Linked DNA regions of Homo sapiens. The protein of the gene in region 1 interacts with the protein of each later gene in a biochemical or structural test. Each region holds a gene or a part of one and is shown in the gene's direction. Other genes may lie near its edges.

Evidence for each region. Proteins that work in one complex are often made in the same cells at the same time.
Region 2: the proteins of TGFB1I1 (region 1) and PTPN12 form a complex in vitro, tested with the Homo sapiens proteins (one study listed by BioGRID).
Region 3: the proteins of TGFB1I1 (region 1) and SLC6A3 form a complex in vitro, tested with the Homo sapiens proteins (one study listed by BioGRID).

Annotation. Positions count from the first base shown.
Region 1 is NC_000016.10:31,468,286-31,475,172, forward strand, and holds the start of TGFB1I1 (transforming growth factor beta-1-induced transcript 1 protein), read left to right. Parts: upstream 1-3,866; 5' UTR 3,867-3,903; coding exon 3,904-3,916; intron 3,917-3,922; exon of another isoform or gene 3,923-3,938; intron 3,939-4,117; exon of another isoform or gene 4,118-4,164; intron 4,165-4,919; exon of another isoform or gene 4,920-4,965; intron 4,966-5,155; coding exon 5,156-5,271; intron 5,272-5,396; coding exon 5,397-5,449; intron 5,450-5,549; coding exon 5,550-5,692; intron 5,693-5,866; coding exon 5,867-5,954; intron 5,955-6,064; coding exon 6,065-6,170; intron 6,171-6,277; coding exon 6,278-6,472; intron 6,473-6,887. UniProt on the Homo sapiens protein: Functions as a molecular adapter coordinating multiple protein-protein interactions at the focal adhesion complex and in the nucleus. Links various intracellular signaling modules to plasma membrane receptors and regulates the Wnt and TGFB signaling pathways.
Region 2 is NC_000007.14:77,631,271-77,638,294, forward strand, and holds part of PTPN12 (tyrosine-protein phosphatase non-receptor type 12), read left to right. Parts: intron 1-1,077; coding exon 1,078-1,155; intron 1,156-4,495; exon of another isoform or gene 4,496-4,511; coding exon 4,512-4,579; intron 4,580-5,747; coding exon 5,748-5,778; intron 5,779-7,024. UniProt on the Homo sapiens protein: Dephosphorylates a range of proteins, and thereby regulates cellular signaling cascades. Dephosphorylates cellular tyrosine kinases, such as ERBB2 and PTK2B/PYK2, and thereby regulates signaling via ERBB2 and PTK2B/PYK2.
Region 3 is NC_000005.10:1,393,441-1,400,464, reverse strand, and holds part of SLC6A3 (sodium-dependent dopamine transporter), read left to right. Parts: intron 1-5,706; coding exon 5,707-5,730; 3' UTR 5,731-7,024. UniProt on the Homo sapiens protein: Mediates sodium- and chloride-dependent transport of dopamine. Also mediates sodium- and chloride-dependent transport of norepinephrine (also known as noradrenaline). Regulator of light-dependent retinal hyaloid vessel regression, downstream of OPN5 signaling.

The DNA of each region.
Region 1 (6,887 bases):
ACTTTGCTATTGTGAATAGTACTGCAATAAACACAATGAGTCCAGCTGTCTTTTACATGATTTCTTTTCCTGTGGGTAGATGCTCGTTAGTGGGATTTCTGAGTCAAATGATAGTTCTAGTTGTAGGTCTTTGAGAAATCTCTATGCTGTTTTCCAGAGAGGTTGAGCTAATTTACATTCCCACCAACAGTGTATAAGTATTCCTCTTTCTCCACATTCATGCCAACATCTGTTGCTCTTTTACTGTTTAATAATTGGCTTGCAGATTTTTGACTCCTCAGTGGCAGCCTGATTTTGGGGAGAGCTGCACTGGGCCTGCCAAGGTTTGCTTCTGGGCAGCTGAGGTTGGCACTTGCTGTCTCTGAGCCTCTGTGAGTGTTGGTCCAGGTCTCTGGTTTTCAGGCTATGCATTAGAACCAAGCAGTGAGCTTTGAAAAACTATTGATGCCTGGGGTCTTTTTGCTCACATTGGACTGGGCATCGGTATTTTATTTTATTTTATTTTATTTTTTGGAATCTTGTTCTGTCACCCAGGCTGGAGTGTGGTGGTACAATATTGACTCATTGCAGCCTCCGCCTCTCTGGTTCAAGCAATTCTCATGCCTCAGCCTCCCAAGTAGCTGGGATTACAGGTGCCACCATGCCCGGCTAACTTTTTTTGTATTTTTAGTAGAAATGGGGTTTCACCATGTTGGCCAGCCTGGTCTCGAACTCCTGACCTCAGGTGATCTGTCTGCCTTGGCCTCCCAAAGTGCTGGGATTACAGGCGTGAGCCACCGCGCCCAGTCAGGCCCTATCTTCAAATATAGTCACACTGAGGGTTGAACTGTGATGTATAAATGTGGGGGAGACACAAACATTCAGTCCATAACACTCCCTTTCCCCCAACCCTAGGCAATCACTAATCTACATCGTATCTCTACAGATGACCTATTCTGGACATGTCATATAAATGGAATCATACAATGTGTGATCTTTCATATCTGGCCTCTTTCATATAGCTTAATGTTATCAAGGTTCATCCACACTGTAGCATCTCATTTCTTTTTATTAGGAATAATACAGTTTCACTTTATGGATTGCTGTGGTTTGAACATGTACCCCAGAGTTCATGTGTTGGAAACTTAACCCCCAATTCAACTGTTGAGAGGTGGGAACTTTAAGAAGTGATTAGGTTATGTGGGCTCTTCCCTCATGAATGGATTAATGGCATTATTGCATGAGTAGGTTAGTTATCAAGGGAGTGGACAGCTGATAGATAAATGGATGGGTTCTGCCCCCACCCCACCCCCTCTCTTGCACTGTCTTGCCCTTCTGCTTTCTGCTGTGGGATGAGGCAGAAAGAAGGCCCTCACCAGATGCAGGGCCCTTGACCTTCGACTTCCCAACCTCTAGAACTGAAAGAAAGATATTTCTATTCTTTATAAATTATCCAGCCTTAGGCATTCTACGATGCAGCACAAAACAGACTAAGACATGGATATGCCACTTTCATTTCTTCAATCATCAGTTGACGGACATTTGGGTTGTTTCCACTCGGGCTATTATGAATAATGCTGCTATGAATACTCATGTACAAGTTTTTTTGTGGAATATGCTTTTATTTCTCTTGGTTACATATCTAGAAGGGAAATTGCTGGATCATATAACTCTATGTTTAAACATGTGAGGAACTGCCAGACCATTTTCCAAAGTTAGTGAACGATTTTACATTCCAACCAGCCATGTGTGAGGGTTCCAATCTCTCCATATCCTCACAAAAACTTGCTAATTACCTCTTTCTTTTCAGCTTTTTTTTTTTTTTTTTTTGAGTCGGAATCTCACTCTGTCACCAGGCTGGAGTGCAGTGGCACAATCTCTGCTCACTGCAACCTCTGCCTCCCGAGTTCAAGTGATTCTCCTGCCTCAGCCTCCCGAGTAGCTGGGATTACAGGTGCCTGCCACCACACCCAGCTAATTTTTGTATTTTTAGTAGAGACGGGGTTTTGCCAAGTTAACCAGGCTGGTCTCCAACTCCAGACCTCAGGTGATCCGCCCGCCTCGGCCTCCCAGAGTGTTGGGATTACAGGCGTGAACCACTGAGCCTGGCCTTTAAAATATTATCATTATTATTTGAGATGGAGTCTCGCTCTGTTGCTCAGGCTGGAGTGCAGTGGCACGATCTCAGCTCACTGCAGCCTCCACCTGCCAGGTTCAAGGGATTCTTCCGCCTCAGCCTCCCAAGTAGCTGGGACTACAGGTGCCCACCACCATGTCTGGCTAATTTTTTTGTGTGTTTTTAGTAGAGACTGTTTTCACCATGTTAGCCAGGCTGGTCTCGAACTCCTGACCTCAGGGGATCCACCCACCTCGGCCTTCCAAAGTGTTAGGATTACAGGTGTGAGCCACTGCTCCTTGCCTAATTACCTGTCTTTTTTGTTATTGCCATCCTAATAGGTATGATGTGGCATCTCATTGTAGTTTTGATTTGCATTTCTCTGGGGACTAATGATGTTGAGGATCTTTTCATGTAATCATTGGCTATTTATATAACTTCTTTGAACTGTCTATTCAGGTCGTTTGCCCATTTTTTCTTCTTTTTCTTTTTTATTCTTGACACAGGGTCTCCTCTGTTGCTCAGGAGTTCAGTGGCACAATCTCAGCTCACTGCAGCCTCTGCCTCCAGGTTTCAAGCAATTCTCCTGTCTCAGCCTCCCAAGTAGCTGGAATTACAGGCTCCCACCACCACGCACAGCTAATTTTGTGTTTTTAGTAGAGATGGGGTTTTGTCATGTTGGCCAGGCTGGTCTCGAACTCCTGACCTCAAGTGACCTGCCCGCCTTGACCTCCCAAAGTGCTAGGATTATAGGTGTGAGCCACCATGCCTGTCTCGCATTTTTAAAAAGCTCCCCAGGTTGTTCCGATTTGCTGCTGGGTTGATACTCACATTCCAGTGCTCAGATCTGTCCAGAAGAGTGGCTGCAGCACAGTTGTCTGTCCATAACTACCTCTATGGCCTCTCGTTTCCACCTCGTTTCTCAGGGTCTCAGTCCAGGGAAGGCCTTGCCACTTTGTGGCTGGAGACTGTGTCTTGCTTTCTGCTCTGAGTTCATCAGTAACTTGGGAAAGGGCTGTTTCAGAGCAGGCCTGGGCCACCTCAGTGCTGAGGAAGGGCTTTGTCTTGCAGGCTGGCTGGGGGTTGGTTGCCTGGGAGTGTTTTCCCCGAATTTGCAAGGGGCTTGCGCCCGGGTTCGAGTTTACGTGTGTCCATGACCAAGTCTTGGAGGGAAGGTCCTAGTGTAGAGTCTGTGGGTGGGTTCACTGTGTCTGTCCCCGTCCCTCAGATTTCTTTGTGTCTGGTATGTATGCCTCTTGGGGCCTCTATTTATCTGTCAGGGTCTCCGATGGGAGGGTCTCCGAACCTGAGGTCTAATTGAGCCTTAGAATATCACTCCTGCTACCAATCCAAAAATTCCGTCTGGGACAAGTCTCCCAGGAATGGCATGGGTGGGAGGGAGGCTCTTGTCTAGGACTCAGGCGCTAGCTTTGAGCGGTGTCTGTTTGGGGGCCTCAGTCCGTGTCTGTAAGTCTCCCTAGGGAGCGGCTCTGGGGCTTGGTCTGGAGAAGCCACTTCTCTCTGGCTCTGGCCTCCTGGGGCTCCCTGCAGCTGAGGCCAAGGCTGGGGTGTGGCCGCCTCCGCGGCAGGCCGGCGGGCTGGGCTCGGGTGGGCCGGGGCGCTCCCTCCTTTCCACGCCCCCACCTCGGGTTCCCCCGTTCATCGCCCCCCCATCCCCATCTCAGCGGGTCCCGGCTTCCTTACATGGTCACGGCCGGGCTTCCAGCTCCCGGACGTCCCCCGCCCCCCGCCCCCACCGGACACGGCCCCCGCCCTGTTCGCCCCGCGCCACCGGCCCGCGCCCCGCCATGGAGGACCTGGGTGAGTGGGGCCGGATCCCCGGGTCCGTGGCCCCTCACCGCTGCCCAGAGCTGCCTCCCCGCCGTCGCTCTCCCGCATCTCCCCATCCCTGTCTTCTTACTTCTGCTTTTCGCCTCTGCCCGCGCCTCCTTTCCAACTCCACGTCCCCCTTCCTGCCTCTCCCTTCCTGCCTTTCCTGGGCCGGCCGCTCCCTCCCTTCTTCCCTCGCTGTGCTCCTCCATCCCAGGCTGCGGCAGATGGAACGGGAGGTGCGGCGCCCGCGGGCGCCCGGGCGCGGGGCTCTGGGGAGGGAGGGGTTAAAGGGGCCTCGGCCCGGGGACCGGGAAAGTAGAGGGCACGGGAAAGTCTGGCATCAAGTTTTGGAGAAAAAAAGCGGGCCTGCCTGCACCAGAGTTTTGGGAGAGGAGGAGTTAAGGGCTCCTGAGCACAGTGAGGGTCAGGTCCTTGAGGCAAGGAAGAGAATAGTAACTCAGGAGTGCCTAGGCGCCCGCGAAGGCTTCAGGGTTTCACGCGGGTGCTCAGAGACGAAGACTGAGGGCAGGACTTCTGGGTTCTGGAAGTGAAAGGGCTCAAAAGACCCGGATCTGGGGATGCAGGGATGGAGAGAGGTGTCTTGTCCGGAAGGGGGACCCAGGTATCTCGTCCTCCCTGCGAAGCCTGGGGCTGGAAGGCTGTGCGCTCCACGGGAGAGAGGGGCTTCCGGCCCCTGGCGGTAGAGGGCGCTGCTCGGTAGGGGTAACTGACGCTGTACCGCAGATAAACAGCCAATCAGAAGGCAGGTCCCAGCGAAGCGCCAGTGAGGAGCCCAGGGCGGGACTCAGGGGCCTGGGAGTGGCCAGGCTGGGCGGGGCCTGTGTAGGTAGAGGGAGGAGTTAACCAGCATGGAAGAGAGAGCGTCCAATCAGAAAGCTGAGGGCCAGGCACTGGGCCAATGGAGCAATTTGGAGGGGAGCCAAATTTGGCTTGGGTGAAGAGCCCATTTTGACTGCATCAGAGAAGATGGGGAGAATAAAATAATCAGGAGGCTGGGTTTGTGCTTGGCTCCAAGCGTGAGCAACTGGGATATTCTGGTCATAAATATTCCTTGCTACCCTTCGAGCAGTGCTCTGCCTGGCTCTGGCCCTGTGACCTCTTCTCTTAATACTGGCTTCTGTCCTTCTCCAGTACTGCCCACTGGGAACCTTATCTTCTGATCTAACCGTGACCCTTGTCTCTCTCCCTGATGGCCTCTTCCTGCAGATGCCCTGCTCTCTGACCTGGAGACTACCACCTCGCACATGCCAAGGTCAGGGGCTCCCAAAGAGCGCCCTGCGGAGCCTCTCACCCCTCCCCCATCCTATGGCCACCAGCCACAGGTGAGATCGGATGTTGGGGACTGGGGCAGCCACTAGGGCCAGGCTCGGCCTGGTCTATGGGGATCTCAGCCTCAGTGGGGCAGAGTGCAGGCCTGTCATCCCACCTGTGCGTCTCCGCTCTGTAGACAGGGTCTGGGGAGTCTTCAGGAGCCTCGGGGGACAAGGACCACCTGTACAGGTGAGGGGCCTGGAAACCAGGGCATGGGGGCCAACTGAGTCTCAGGTGAGGAGGCTTGGATTCCCCACCCCTGAACCCAGGCTCCCACTCTGCTTCCCAGCACGGTATGCAAGCCTCGGTCCCCAAAGCCTGCAGCCCCGGCGGCCCCTCCATTCTCCTCTTCCAGCGGTGTCTTGGGTACCGGGCTCTGTGAGCTAGATCGGTTGCTTCAGGAACTTAATGCCACTCAGTTCAACATCACAGGTACCAGGGTGACTGAGAGAGGCCTTGATGCGATAGGGGCAGGGGAGGGAAGGGTGGGGCAGAGACTAAGAGGAATACACTTCCCAGAGTAGCAGTTAAAGGGACCTAAAGCCTCAAGTGTGAGGGTGCGTTGAGCATGGCCCTATATGTAGCGTCCTCCTCTCCTCTCTCCAGATGAAATCATGTCTCAGTTCCCATCTAGCAAGGTGGCTTCAGGAGAGCAGAAGGAGGACCAGTCTGAAGATAAGAAAAGACCCAGCCTGTGAGTTTGGCGTCGTTGTCAGGGCTGAGAGATGAGTCCTGGATATCTGAGTCACTAGAGGGAGCGTTGCTCTGGGAGGCTCTGAGATGACACAAGCATGTTCTTCACAGCCCTTCCAGCCCGTCTCCTGGCCTCCCAAAGGCTTCTGCCACCTCAGCCACTCTGGAGCTGGATAGACTGATGGCCTCACTCTCTGACTTCCGCGTTCAAAACCATGTGAGTTGGGCAGTGGGCCAGTGTCCATTTGTGGCTCCCCAACCCCTTCTAGACAATTCCACATCTGCTGCTTTGCTGACTCAATTCTCATGTCCTCCCCGCTGCAGCTTCCAGCCTCTGGGCCAACTCAGCCACCGGTGGTGAGCTCCACAAATGAGGGCTCCCCATCCCCACCAGAGCCGACTGGCAAGGGCAGCCTAGACACCATGCTGGGGCTGCTGCAGTCCGACCTCAGCCGCCGGGGTGTTCCCACCCAGGCCAAAGGCCTCTGTGGCTCCTGCAATAAACCTATTGCTGGGCAAGTAAGTGGAGCCTTGTGAGAAGGGAGGCAGAGACCTGTCACAGACCCATCTTTAGTGAGAGCTGGGCTTTATGCTGTTCCCTTTTAGTAAGTTAATCTGGGAAGTGGGTATCATTATTACTTATGTTTTATGGATGAGGAAACTGAAGCTCTGAACCACACAGCAGGTTAGTGGTAGGGTGAAAATTCCAACCATGTTACCATTTATTGTGGTCCTACTGTGTGCCAGGCACTGTGCCAGCTCCTTTACAAACCCTCATCTCATCTGATCTTCACAAAACACTCTGTGGCTCCACCCAATATCTCTCAGGCATCTACAAAGGCTCTCTCTTCCTCCGTCAGAGTCTGGACTGGGTTCACTGGTCCTTGTTTTATTGACTGAGCAGATGTGATTGACAACAGCTGTGCCTAGGGGT
Region 2 (7,024 bases), on another chromosome or scaffold:
GACCCAGAAGCTGTATTTTCTTGCGTCTCCAGCTAAATAAATGTAGGTGGGGCAAAAGCAATCATACTCACCTCATGCGTGTTGAAAATTGACAAGACCTATGCATAGCCATCAGGTGTGGTAAAATAGCAGAGTATCATGGCAGAACTGTGTGTTCATTTAAGAACAATGGGCAAGGCTCAAGACAAAATAATACAGGACCGTCGCATTTCTTTTTCTTTATCCCACCCTCCCCAACCTGAGAGTTCACACACAGGATTGTATTCTTATATTTTCTTTCTATTCCTCCAGTGAAAACTCAAAGATCAAATACACTCATTTACCTTAAGCCATAATAAAGCTAACCAATGAGGCTTACTTAATGCACTCTCTTTCCCAAGAGCTAATTTTGTTTTTACTAGTGAAAAACCTGTATATAGCTTCAGTCAGCATTCTCAAAGTACAGCCATGTGCCACTGTACACAAAATCTTTAGCAATAAATAAATGAAGATTTTTTAAAAAACTTTAATAGCTATATCTTTATCTGTTTTGGAAAAATAACTAGTATTTCCAATGTTATTTCAGTTATTGCTGTTTAAGACATGACTGAGGTACACAGTTAAGTTTAAAATGAGTCAGATTTTAAAAGTGAATAGGACACATGTTACATAGTATGGCAAAAATCATGAAAGGTGTTAAGCAATTGAATCCTGTTTGGGAAACACTGGCTTAGGCGTTTCATAACGCAAATGACCAAAGCTTTCCTTTTTGGACACAAAACATCATCAGTAAGCTCAGTAGAGAAGTCACTTGCCAGCTGACTTCTCTACTGAAGATTCCCTTCAGGCTTGGAGAACTGAATGATGTCTGTAGAGTGACAGGAAAGTCATGGGAGAGAGTCATTTCTGTATACATTATCTTTGCTCAATAAGCATCATAATTCTTGATAATGAGTGGAAAAGGTTTCTTGCATTTTTTTGCATTTTTAAAAACTGATCTAGATATTTGTGACAGGAATTTTTAGAATGTCAAGAAAGCTCTCTGATTTTGTTTAGATGACATGTTAATTTGTCTAAATTTTTATGTGTTTAATTTAGATGTTGATGTTAGTGAAGATTCACCTCCTCCCCTACCTGAAAGAACTCCTGAATCGTTTGTGTTAGCAAGTGAACATAGTGAGTGTCTCTTTTGCTTTTACATTTACTTCATATTCTAATAATAAACTCCGAAAAACATACCTGATTTTAATCTATTAGCTATTGTGCTACATAATTAAATTCAAAAACAAGTAAATTGATGTTGACATGCTTTTAATTCTTTGTTTGAAAAATGCTTTTAAATTATATTTTTTACTTGCTAAGATCGATAGAAATTACTGCATTTATGTTAGATATCAGAATTCAATTCATTTAAATGTAATTATAGGCTGGGCATGGTGGTTCAAGCCTGTGATCCTAGCACTTTGGGAGGCCTAGGCAGGTGGATCACCTGAGGTCAGGAGTTGGAGACCAGCCTGGCCAACATGGTGAAACTCCATCTCTACTAAAAATATAAAAATTAGCTGGGCATGGTGGTGGACACCTATAATCTCAGCTACTTGAGAGGCTGAGGCAGGAAAATGACTTGAACCCGGGAGTTGGAGGTTGCAGTGAGCCGAGATTGCGCCATTGCATTCCAGCCTGGGCGAAGAGCAAGATTTCGTCTCAAAAAGTAAATAAATAAATAAATGCAATTACAAAGCCAGGTGCAGTGGCTCATACCTGTAATCCCAGCACCTTGGGAGGCTGAGATGCACTGATCACCTGAGGTCAGGAGTTCAAGACCAGCGTGACCAACATGGAGAAACCCCGTCTCTACTAAAAATACAAAATTAGCCAGGCGTGGTGGCGCATGCCTGTAATCCCACCTACTTGGGAGACTGAGGCAGGAGAATTGCTTGAACCTGGGAGGTGGATATTGCAGTGAGCCGAGATCACACTATTGCACTCCAACCTGGGCAACAAGAGCGAAACTCCATCTTAAAAAAAAAATGCAATTATAAGTGTATTTGCAATCTGGTGTATTTTCATTCATTAAAAATAGCACTTATTGACTCATGCCTGTAATCCTGCCACTTTGGGAGACCAAGGCGGGCAGATCACGAGGTCAGGACATCAAGACCATCCTGGCTAACACACTGAAACCCTGTCTCTACTAGAAATACAAAAAATTAGCTGTGTGTGGTGGCATGCACCAGTAGTCCCAGCTGCTCGGGAGGCTGAGGCAGGAGAATCGCTTGAACCCCGGAGGCAGAGGTTGGAGTGAGCCGAGACCATGCCACTGCACTCCAGCCTGGGCAACAGAGCAAGACTCCATCTCAAAAAAAAAAAAAGTAGCACTTATTTATGAAAACATTAATTGCTTTCCTTAGATTTAGGTCAGTAAACATTTCTGTTGGGTGGGCGTCACTGGATTGGTGTTAACTGAAAGACATTTAACACCACTGGAGTAGACTGAGCACATTGGCTCATACCTGTAATCGCAGCACTTTGGGAGTCCAAGGCGCGAGGATTGCTTGAGCCTAAGAGTTTGAGACCAGCCTGGGCAACACAGTGATACCTCCTCTCTTCTAAAAATAAAATAACTGTCCAGTTGTGGTGGTGGGCGCCTGTAATCCCAGCTGCTTGGGAGGCTGAGGCAGGAGAATTGCTTGAACCCAGGATGCAGAGGTTGCAGCGAGCTGAGACCACGCCATTGCATTCCAGCCTGGGCAACAAGAGCAAAAAACTTTGTCTCAAAAAATAATAATAACAACAAAAAATTAGCCAGGTGTGGTGGCATGTGCCTGTAGTCCTTGCTACTCAGGAGGCTGAAGAAGAAGGATTGCTTGATCCCTGTAGTTGGAGGCTGCAGTGAGCCATGATCGCACCACTGTACTCCAGTTTGGTAACAGTGAGACCCCGTCTGTGGAAGAAAAAAAAAAGACCACTGGAGTATCAGAACTGGGAGAAAGTGATGATACTTTAAAACATTGATAATATACTTCTCCCTATTAATCCTCTAAAAAAGAGTGCAGAAACAGCTTGATTGTATTTACAGTGTCTCATGCTCAGTGGAGGTGCTCACTTGTCTAAGTACATTTTACCAATATATTAATTTTGACTGATTTTTGTTTTGTTTCATTTGGTTTTCTTTTTATTTATTTATTTTTTATTTATTCATTTTTTTGAGATGGAGTCTCATTCTGTCGCCCCGGCTGGAGTGCAGTGGCACGATCTCGGCTCACTGCAAGCTCCACCTCTTGGGTTCATGCCATTCTCCTGCCTCAGCCTCCCATGTAGCTGGGACTACAGGTGCCTGCCACCACACCCGGCTTATTTTTTTGTATTTTTTTTAGTAGAGACAGGGTTTCACCGTGTTAGCCAGGATGGTCCATCTCCTGACCTCATGATCCGCCCACCTCAGCCTCTCAAAGTGCTGGGATTACAGGCATGAGCCACCACGCCCGGCTAATTTTTTTGTATTTTTTTAGTAGAGACAGGGTTTCACCATGTTAGCCAGGATGGTCTCCATCTCCTGACCTCGTGATCGCCCGCCTCAGCCTCCCAAAGTGCTGGGATTACAGGCGGGAGCCACCACGCCCGGCCTTGTTTTGTTTTATTTCGAGTTGGAGTTCCACTCTGTCACTCAGGCTGGAGTGCAGTGGCACGATCTGGGCTCAAGCTGTTCTCCTGCCTCAGCCTCCTGAGTAGCTGCGATTAGAGGCATACACCGTCACTCCCAACTAATTTTTTTATTAGAGATAGGGTCTCACCATGTTGGCCAGGCTGGTCTTGAACTCCTGACCTCAAGTGATCTGCCTGCCTCAGCCTCCCAAAGTGAATTTTGACTGATTTTAAGATAAATGTTAAAGAGCCAAGCACAATGGCTTATGCCTGTGATCCCAGCACTTTGGGAGACCAAGGCAGGTGGATCTCTGTTCCATTTGCCCTAGGAGTTTGAGACCAGCCTGGGCAACATGGCAAAACCCTGTCTGTATAAAATCAAAAATTAGCCAGGCGAGGTGGCATGCACCTATAGTCCCAGCTACTCAAGAAGCTGAGATGGGAAGATTGCCTGAGCCTGGGAGGTTGAGGCTCCAGTGAGCCGAGATCGCGCCTGGTCAACAGAGTGAGACCCTGTCTCAACAACAATTAAAAAGAATGTTGAAAGCAATGAAACGGTATACTTCAGTTGTCTAAGTCTGTCACGTTGTCTGTAGATTAAGCAGTATACTTCACTTGTCTGTCACATTATCTATAGACTGTAATACACTGATGACTGAATTTATTTACTTAGGTTTTGAAGGAAGGAAACAGAATGTTCTCGAATTAATAGAAACTACAATTTTTTTTTTTTAGAAACTTCAGAAATATGCTTACCCAGAAACTACAAAATTTTTGTGGAAGCGATAGTTTCTAAAATCTTTAGGATCTGTTTTTTGTATTACTTTAATGCAAAGAAATTTCAGAAATTCAAGGTGTTAATAACAATAAGATTTCATTTTTCTCAGATACACCTGTAAGATCGGAATGGAGTGAACTTCAAAGTCAGGAACGATCTGAACAAAAAAAGTCTGAAGTAAGTCCTTTTGGAATTGGAACAGTTATAGCTTAACATTTCTACTCTTTTGTTAACTAATCTTGCAGTTGTTGAAATAGCTGTCATCTTAAGATCGTTAAATATAGTTTGTAATTTTTGATCGGCATTTCTTATACTAAGATTTCAGATGAAAAGCCCATATAAAAGGTAGGTTCTGAAATTTTTTAAAAGGGTAACCTGATCTACATACAACTATCACTTTAAAGTATTGTTTTCTCAAGCTGTTTTTGAAATATGTAAATTATGCTTCAAATAATTTTGAAGGTATGAATGAAATAGGAGTTACTATTTTCAGGGTCCTAATTCTTTCTTACATTTCTAGATGCTTCCCATTATAACACTAGGCACATAGTCGCTTCTTTTGTTTTTTTCTGGCTACCTGGCATTTCTTTGACATTCGAGAAATGTTTTGGCAATTAAATATTTTGAGGGCGTGGCATGGTGGCTCATGTCTGTAATCACAGCACTTTGGGAGGCCAAGCAGAAGGATCACTTGAGCCCAGGAGTTCAAGACCATCCTGGGCAACATGGGGAGACCTTATCTCTACAAAAATTTTTAAAATTAGCCAGGCGTGGTGGCGCATGTCTATGGTCCCAGCTTTTTGGGAGGCTGAGATGGGAGGATTGCTTGGGCCCCAGAGGTCAAGGCTGCAGTGAGCCATGATCACACCACTGCACTCCAGCCTGAGTGACAGAGTGAGACCCTGTCTCAGCAACAACACATTTGTCCATAGGAGATAACATTTTTTATTAACATTAATACTTTTTGTATTTTCTCCCATACTTTAATATCTCTGAAATTTAGCTACATCTTATATTTGATTTTAAGACATGATGTAGTTTAATTGACATATAAAATACAATAATGATATAATTAGTAATAGTGGCTGGCAAAACACAGCTGTATGTTCCTTCATGCAGTAGCCCATGCTTTTCAGTGCTCATCCAGAAACATTTACTCCAAGGAGAAATAGCATAACATTTTAAAATTTTAAGCCTAATTAAAAAACAATTGTTTGCTTTTCCTCTGATGCTGAAAATGATAGGCCTTGATTTCTTGGGATATATACCCATAACAGACCCAGCTTTCTATTATTTGTATATAAAATGAATGTATTGTAATAGGTATTAAATGTCTTCCTCGTAGGGCTTGATAACCTCTGAAAATGAGAAATGTGGTAAGTTGTTAGATTTTTTTTTTCCTTTTTACTGTAGATTTTATTGATTAATTTCTACAAAATAACATGCTTCATAGTTCATGCTATATAGTTATTTCTGTATGTGAAAATGTCTAGGACAACTCTTGTAGAAGCTTAATATTGTACTATAATTCTTCCAAATTAATTATTACCACCAGATAGTAGTATTGATCTGGAAAATCATGGGAGCATTTACTATCAATAATTACAGGCTAATGGGAAAGAGATTTTTTAAAAATATTTTTCTGTTTTTTATTTTCTGTTTTTAAAAACACCTAGAAGTTAGATCCCGACTTAAATAAATGATGGAATTGCTTCTGTAGAAACCTATTGTTTTAGAAATCTTCCTTTTAGTACTTTTTCATTTATTTGTGAAGACCAATAAAATTGTGAAAGAATGAATGAATTTTAGTAGTTAACATCTTTTGTTACTAATCTTAAACACTGGTAATTAAAGAGTAAACTACAATCTAAACAACATAAAACTTTAAAAGTGGAGTTATTAGGCCTGGCGTGGTGGCTCACACCTATAATCCCAGCACTTTGGGAGACCCAGGCAGGCAATCACCTGAGGTCAGGAGTTCGAAACCAGCCTTGAGCAACATGGTGAAACCCCGTCTCTACTAAAAATAAAAAAAATAGCTAGGCGTCATGCCATCTGCCTGTAATCCCAGCTACTAGGGAGACTGAGGCAGGAGAATCCCTTGAACCCCGGAGGCAGAGGTTGCAGTGCGCCGAGATTGCGCCATTGCACTCCAACCCGGGCAACAAGAGGGAAACTCCGTCTCAAAAAAAAAAAAAAAAAAACAAGTAGAGTTATTATTTCAAGGTGCAAATAGTGCATTAATTAACCCTGACCTTGTTGATTTCTTAAAATTTTTTTTTTTTTTTTTTTTTTTTTTTTTGAGACAGAGGTCTTGCTCTGTCGCCCAGGCTGGAGTGCAGTGGCGCGATCTCGGCTCACTGCAAGCTCCACCTCCTGGGTTCACAACATTCTCCTGCCTCAGCCTCCTGAGTAGCTGGGACTACAGGCGCCCGCCACCACGCCTGGCTAATTTTTTTGTATTTTTAGTAGAGACGGGGTTTCACCATGTTAGCCAGGATGATCTCGATATCCTGACCTCATGATCGGCTCGCCTCGGCCTCCCAAAGTGCTGGGATTACAGGCATGAGCCACCGCGCCTGGCCTGACCTTGTTGATTTCTATACAAAGACATTTCAGTTG
Region 3 (7,024 bases), on another chromosome or scaffold:
CTGGCTTCGAGTGAGAGGATGGTCACGCCAGGTGTTTCCTGCACCCTGGGAGCCATCCAGCTGTGTGCGAACATGTTCATGACATGCCGTGGAGCAGGTGCATTCCCGGGGGCACACAGTAAACACTTGACGTGTTTTTACTCCCACAACCCTAAGAGGCAGCCCAGCACTCTCTCTACACCAGGGTCCCTGAGACCCAGAGAGGCCCCGGAATGTGCCCAAGATCACAGAGCTGGCCAGCAGGAGAGGAGCCTGGGCTGTGCCCTGGGCCTGTGGCACTGTCCTCCTCCACCCCAGAGTGGCCTCAGCCCCGACCTGATTCCATACACTAATGTCAGCCTAATGCCGACAGCAGAGTCCAATGCACAGCAAAAGGGAGAGAAGGCCATAGTGTGGAGGGCACCGCGGCCCCACCTCGGACCTGCCTCTTCCCTCTGGCCACCTCTCTGTGGCTGGTTCTCGTAAACAGTCCTCCCAGCAGGGGTCTCATGAGCTCATGCCTGAGGAGCCCAGCATGGACCTGCACATGGGGCAGGAGCAAGGATACAGGCAGAGGGAGGGGGCTCTGCGTGCCTGGGAGGTGGGTGGTGACGTCAGGCAGAACAAGACGCTGAGCAGGGAACAGGCCGGGAGGCAGTGGGGAGAAGCCGCCTCTGAGCACACATCTGCACAGCTTGTTCCTCCTACCTGCAAGTCAGGTTCTGGTGTGGGCTCTGCCTCCCTCCGTTGGCACCCTTTCCTCTGTCCTCCCAGTGACTTGCCTGCTCCAAACACAGGAGGCGTGTCCAGGCATCCCATCCCATCCATCCAGAGGATGCCAGCCCCTCCCCACTGGGCCTCCGGTCCTGCTCCACCAGAGCCTCTCTCCTCTGAGAGTCCTATACCTGGGGGTCTTACACTTTGTACAGGATCTTGCTAGTCTTCTCAAATATCCAACTTTGACTTCATGTGAGATTCTTGCTGTGCTTCCTGTCACATTAATCTCAGCTCCTGTATTTATCATTTCTTCCTCTCTTTTTCTTGGATCTACTCTGTTGTAGTTTTGCTAACTTTTTAATTTGGACTTTAGGTTATTAATTTGCATCCTTCGTTCTTTTCTAATGTAAGCACTCAAGGCTATGAATTTCCCTCAAAATACTCCATGTGCTACATTCCGTATTTTTTTCATAGTATTTTTCTTTATCTTTTAGTTCTAAGTATATTTTAATTTCCATTGTGACTTTGTCAACTCATAACTTGCTTAAAAGTCTGCTTTTAAATTGCCAAATATATGGGGATGTTTTACTCATCTTTTTGTTTTTAATTTCCAAATTAATTTCATTGTTCTCAAACACATATGATACCTATTATTTAAAATGTATTGAGACTTCTTTAGGGCCTTATACCTGATCAACTTTGATAAACGTTGCACATCTTTTAGATGAATGTGCTATTCTCTAATTGTCAATACACAGTTCTGCTTCTGTCCATTTGAGTAGGGTTATATATTATGTTACCCACATTGTCTACACTTTGTCAACTTTAGGGGTGCTTGACCATGAGTAATTGAGAGATGCCTGTGGCATATTCTTCCTCGATAGTATATTTGTTTGCTGTTCCCCTCAGTTCTATCAGGTTTTGCTCTCTGTAGTCTGAGGCTGTTTTCTGAGGTTGATCCATGTCCAGAATGATCATCTCTTCCTGGTGACATGAACCCATCTTCACTCCCTAATGATGCTTTTGGTCTTAAAGTCTGACTTGTCTGGGACAAATATAGTTGCACCAAGGTGTCTTTTGAGTTTGCCTGAAATATCTTTTGCAATCTGTTAACTTTCAACTTTGCAGTAACCTTAAGATTTAAGTGTCTTTTGCAAACCCAGCATACACCTAGAATTTTTTACGCTGACAGTTGGACAGGTTAATCCATTTACATTTGTTGTGATTATTGATATATTTGAACTTGATTCTACTATCTTTCTATTCCATTTGTCCCATTTTTAGTGTTTTTCTCCTTTATTGCCTTTTTATAGATTGATTTTTCTTGGTTCACTCATTTTTATTATTCCGTTTATTTCTCTCTACTTGCTTAGAACTTACATACTTTATTCTTTTTTTTTTTTTTTTTGAGGTGGAGTCTTGCTCTGTCACCCAGGCTGGAGTGCAGTGGCATGATCTCTGCTCACTGCAACCTCCACCTCCCAGGTTCAAGCAATTGTCCTGCCTCAGCCTCTCAAGTGGCTGGGATTACAGGTGCCCAGCACCACACCTGGATAATTTTTGTGTTTTTAGTAGAGACAGGGTTTGACCATGTTGGCCAGGCTGGTCTCGAACTCCTGATCTCAAGTGATCTGCCCACCTCTGCCTCCCAGAGTGCTGGGATTACAGCCGTAAGCCACTGTGCCCGGACTTATTCTATTCCTTTAATAGCTACTCTTGAGGTTGTACCATACATATTTCACTTAAACTCTACAGAGAAACCATATTTTAACCCCATCCCATTATAAGGACTTAAATCTTCCTCCTACTGATGAACATGCTATGATTGTTCAAATCTATTTCTCTCTTTTTAACCCACAAATTAGACACTGTCATTGTTCTTGTTCCTGTTATTATTTTGTACGGACTCATCATGTTCCTTGGACTAATGTGCATGCTTGGTGTTTGTTGGTTCCCATACTTTTGTTATAGACTTCTTTTCTTCTAGGACCATTTTCTTGCTTTTCAAAAAGCATCCTTCAGACATTCCTTTGAGGAGGTCTCTTGCTAACCTCCCTCACTATTGGTGTGTGGGAACATCTTTATGCTGCTCTCATTCACGAAAGCACTGTTGTGGGCTCAGGGCTCTAGGCTGACAGGGACTATCTCTGCGTTTTGGAGGCAGCAGTGTTCCGTGGCTGTGCTGAGATGTGTGGCCTGTGAGCCTGCTCTGTGGTGGGCTCTGTCCTCACCCCTGCACTCGGCCGAGTTTCTTCTGCTTTCGGTGTCTCGGGTTCACTGCGGAGTGTCGGGACCTGGGTTTCTTTTTTGTTTGTTTGTTTGTTTGTTTGTTTGTTTTGAGACGGAGTCTCGCTCTGTAGCCCAGGCTGGAGTGCAGTGGCGCAATCTCGGCTCACTGCAAGCTCCGCCTCCCGGGTTCGCGCCATTCTCCTGCCTCAGCCTCCCGAGTAGCTGGGACTGCAGGCACCCACCACCGTTAATTTGGTTTCTTTTTATTTTTCCTCTCTGGATATGTTTTGTGGCCAGATCTGTGGATTCACAAATCTTGTCATTCTGTGAATTTTGCAGCCACACACTGAAAGATTGCCTTCTGCCTTTCTGTGTTTTCCATTATGAGGCTCTGGTGTGTCCACTTTGCCCCAGGTCCTCCAGGTCTCTTACCTCACTTAGATTTTGTTTTCATTTGAATCTTAGGTGCACAGTTGAGTAACGCATCTTATCATTAATCCACATGTGGCCATTTTTAAATTATTAATTTGTCACCGTAACAAACAGACCCTTGTGAGCCCACAGCAGGAAAACTAGGCACTGTGGAAACTGCCTGCCCCTCACCCATTCTGTATCTGCGTCTAGCTTGATCTTTCCCTTGCCCTTCTTACAATTTCATTTGTTGCATCTCTAGATATTTCTAGCTTCCTAAAAAGTGTATTATTTGGCTTCAGCATTTGGTGTAGCCCTAACCAACCCCTACTGAAGCAAGACCTTATGCACACCCCATGCAGATCCCCGAGAATCATGACATTCTCCTGGCTGGGGGAACAGGCACCGTGCCCAGCCCTGTGTGGGCATCAGAGGTGGTTCCCTCTGGTCCTGTCGGCGGATCTCTCCCCAGCCTCCTCATTCACAGCGGGATGTGCTCGTCTGAACCCTCAGCAGGGGTCCTGGGCCATTGTCCCGGGTCTTCTCTCTGTGTGGCCACCTCCTCTCTGGCGCTCTGGCCTGCAAACTGCAGCCACCTCCGTTTCCCTCGCTCTCCTTTCCAGCGTCTCAGCTCAGGGAGTCCACCAGGCTGCACCCTCCCTGTGCTGCAATCTAGAAACTCCCTCGAGGCAGCGAGCAGGGTGGCAGGGGGGCCTCCTTGTTGGCTTCCCTCAGGGACCACTGACCCTTACGGTCTGGTGTCCATGGTCTGGAAGGTCATCGGCACGTGTGTTTTGTTTATTTGGGGCTTGTTTCGGACAGTAGGGTAAATTCGATCCCTATTATTCCATCTAGGTCAGAAATGTTTGTATCCATAGCTACGTTTCACCTACCGTGACTGGTCCCTGACCGTCCGTCACGTGAACAAACCACAGCTCAGCTATGGACGCTCCGCATTCCACTGCCCTGCCCCTGGTCTGCAGCCCAGCCATTCTCTTTTCTACTTCATCTCTGGAAGCTGCGTGTGCTCTGCTGTTTCTTGTGAAATTCTCATCACTGTGATGTGCGTGTGTCACTTTTCTGAGAGTCCCCTATGTGGCCATCCTGTAATCTGTTGCAACAGCTCTGGTCCTTTGGGGTCAAATTGAGGTCTGGTTTCTGGGGACTCACTTAGAGTGGGCTGCTGTCTTCTGTTTCTAGTCTTTATTTTACATTTATGGCTTGATCTTAATCTGTGGGAATCTGGGAGCCCCCAAGCACACCTCCCTCCAGAGGGGACCTTCTGCTTCTGTCAGCGGGCAGGACAGAGAACTGCTTCACCCTGGGGGGAACAGGACTCACAGCTGAAGTCCCAAGCATGGCTTCTTCATCGCTGGCCTGAAGTGGGGCTGCCACCCAGAGCCTCTGCTCTAGGGCTCTGGCCGCTGGGCCACCCGTGGCTGTGGGTCCTGGCCGGGCTCCCTGACCCCAGCTTCCTTCACTGAGCCCCGAGCTGCACCTGGATGCTGCCTGTGCCGGCATCAGCTGTGGCTGCTCCAGGCCCCCGGTAGACCCCTGGCCTGCAGTGTGATCCCACCCTGGCTGAGGAGGTCCCTGCAGGCTCTTGGTGGAGTGGCCAGAGGAGCCTGTGGTGTGGCCAGTGGTAGCTTCAGTGGCTTTCCATGGCCGGCGTGGTTTTGTCAGAAGCAAGCCCCGCATGCCCCTGTTTGGAAATGTTTATGAAGCACACTTCTTGCCATTTAGTGCTATCGAGGGGCTTTGACGCTCACAAACAGGCTGAACTAACAGCTGCATAATAGCAGGCGATGACATTTGCTGGTGGTGTAAATAGCTGCTCTTGTCTATCTCATCAGTCCCTGAGCAGTCAGTACACGCTGCACTTGCGCCCGCGCGGGTCGCAGAGAGCAAGATGGAGCTGCAGAGGTAGCGTGTCACTCAGATGGAGCATCTGAGGCCCCCAGGAAGGTGGAGGGACGTGGGGGAGAGGTGACATCACCACGTCACACCCAAGTCGCTGGGGTACAATCTGGAACCAGCCCCGGACTGAGGGTGCCCGGCATCTCTCAGACTCAGCATCTGATCAATACGCCCCAGAGGCCACCATGGCCACCACGCCAACCACAGTCTCGCGGCTTTTTAAAAAATCAAGTAATGATTGATTTGTAGGAGTTTGAGTGAGGCATCGGATCCCCGGCACCTGTCAAGGGTGTGTTGGTCCAGGCCCCCAGTGAGCCTCCCCTTCTCCCAGGGCACATGGCCAGGAGGCTGCAAACTGTCTGCTCACTGCCTTCAGCTGCTCTTAGCCACCTTCAGCTGCTCTTAAATGGGGCATCGCCCCAGGGTTTCTGACTAAACCTGTTTTCTTTCCAGCTCCGCCACTGGCTCAAGGTGTAGAGGGAGCAGAGACGAAGACCCCAGGAAGTCATCCTGCAATGGGAGAGACACGAACAAACCAAGGAAATCTAAGTTTCGAGAGAAAGGAGGGCAACTTCTACTCTTCAACCTCTACTGAAAACACAAACAACAAAGCAGAAGACTCCTCTCTTCTGACTGTTTACACCTTTCCGTGCCGGGAGCGCACCTCGCCGTGTCTTGTGTTGCTGTAATAACGACGTAGATCTGTGCAGCGAGGTCCACCCCGTTGTTGTCCCTGCAGGGCAGAAAAACGTCTAACTTCATGCTGTCTGTGTGAGGCTCCCTCCCTCCCTGCTCCCTGCTCCCGGCTCTGAGGCTGCCCCAGGGGCACTGTGTTCTCAGGCGGGGATCACGATCCTTGTAGACGCACCTGCTGAGAATCCCCGTGCTCACAGTAGCTTCCTAGACCATTTACTTTGCCCATATTAAAAAGCCAAGTGTCCTGCTTGGTTTAGCTGTGCAGAAGGTGAAATGGAGGAAACCACAAATTCATGCAAAGTCCTTTCCCGATGCGTGGCTCCCAGCAGAGGCCGTAAATTGAGCGTTCAGTTGACACATTGCACACACAGTCTGTTCAGAGGCATTGGAGGATGGGGGTCCTGGTATGTCTCACCAGGAAATTCTGTTTATGTTCTTGCAGCAGAGAGAAATAAAACTCCTTGAAACCAGCTCAGGCTACTGCCACTCAGGCAGCCTGTGGGTCCTTGCGGTGTAGGGAACGGCCTGAGAGGAGCGTGTCCTATCCCCGGACGCATGCAGGGCCCCCACAGGAGCGTGTCCTATCCCCGGACGCATGCAGGGCCCCCACAGGAGCATGTCCTATCCCTGGACGCATGCAGGGCCCCCACAGGAGCGTGTACTACCCCAGAACGCATGCAGGGCCCCCACAGGAGCGTGTACTACCCCAGGACGCATGCAGGGCCCCCACTGGAGCGTGTACTACCCCAGGACGCATGCAGGGCCCCCACAGGAGCGTGTCCTATCCCCGGACCGGACGCATGCAGGGCCCCCACAGGAGCGTGTACTACCCCAGGACGCATGCAGGGCCCCCACAGGAGCGTGTACTACCCCAGGATGCATGCAGGGCCCCCACAGGAGCGTGTACTACCCCAGGACGCATGCAGGGCCCCCATGCAGGCAGCCTGCAGACCACACTCTGCCTGGCCTTGAGCCGTGACCTCCAGGAAGGGACCCCACTGGAATTTTATTTCTCTCAGGTGCGTGCCACATCAATAACAACAGTTTTTATGTTTGCGAATGGCTTTTTAAAATC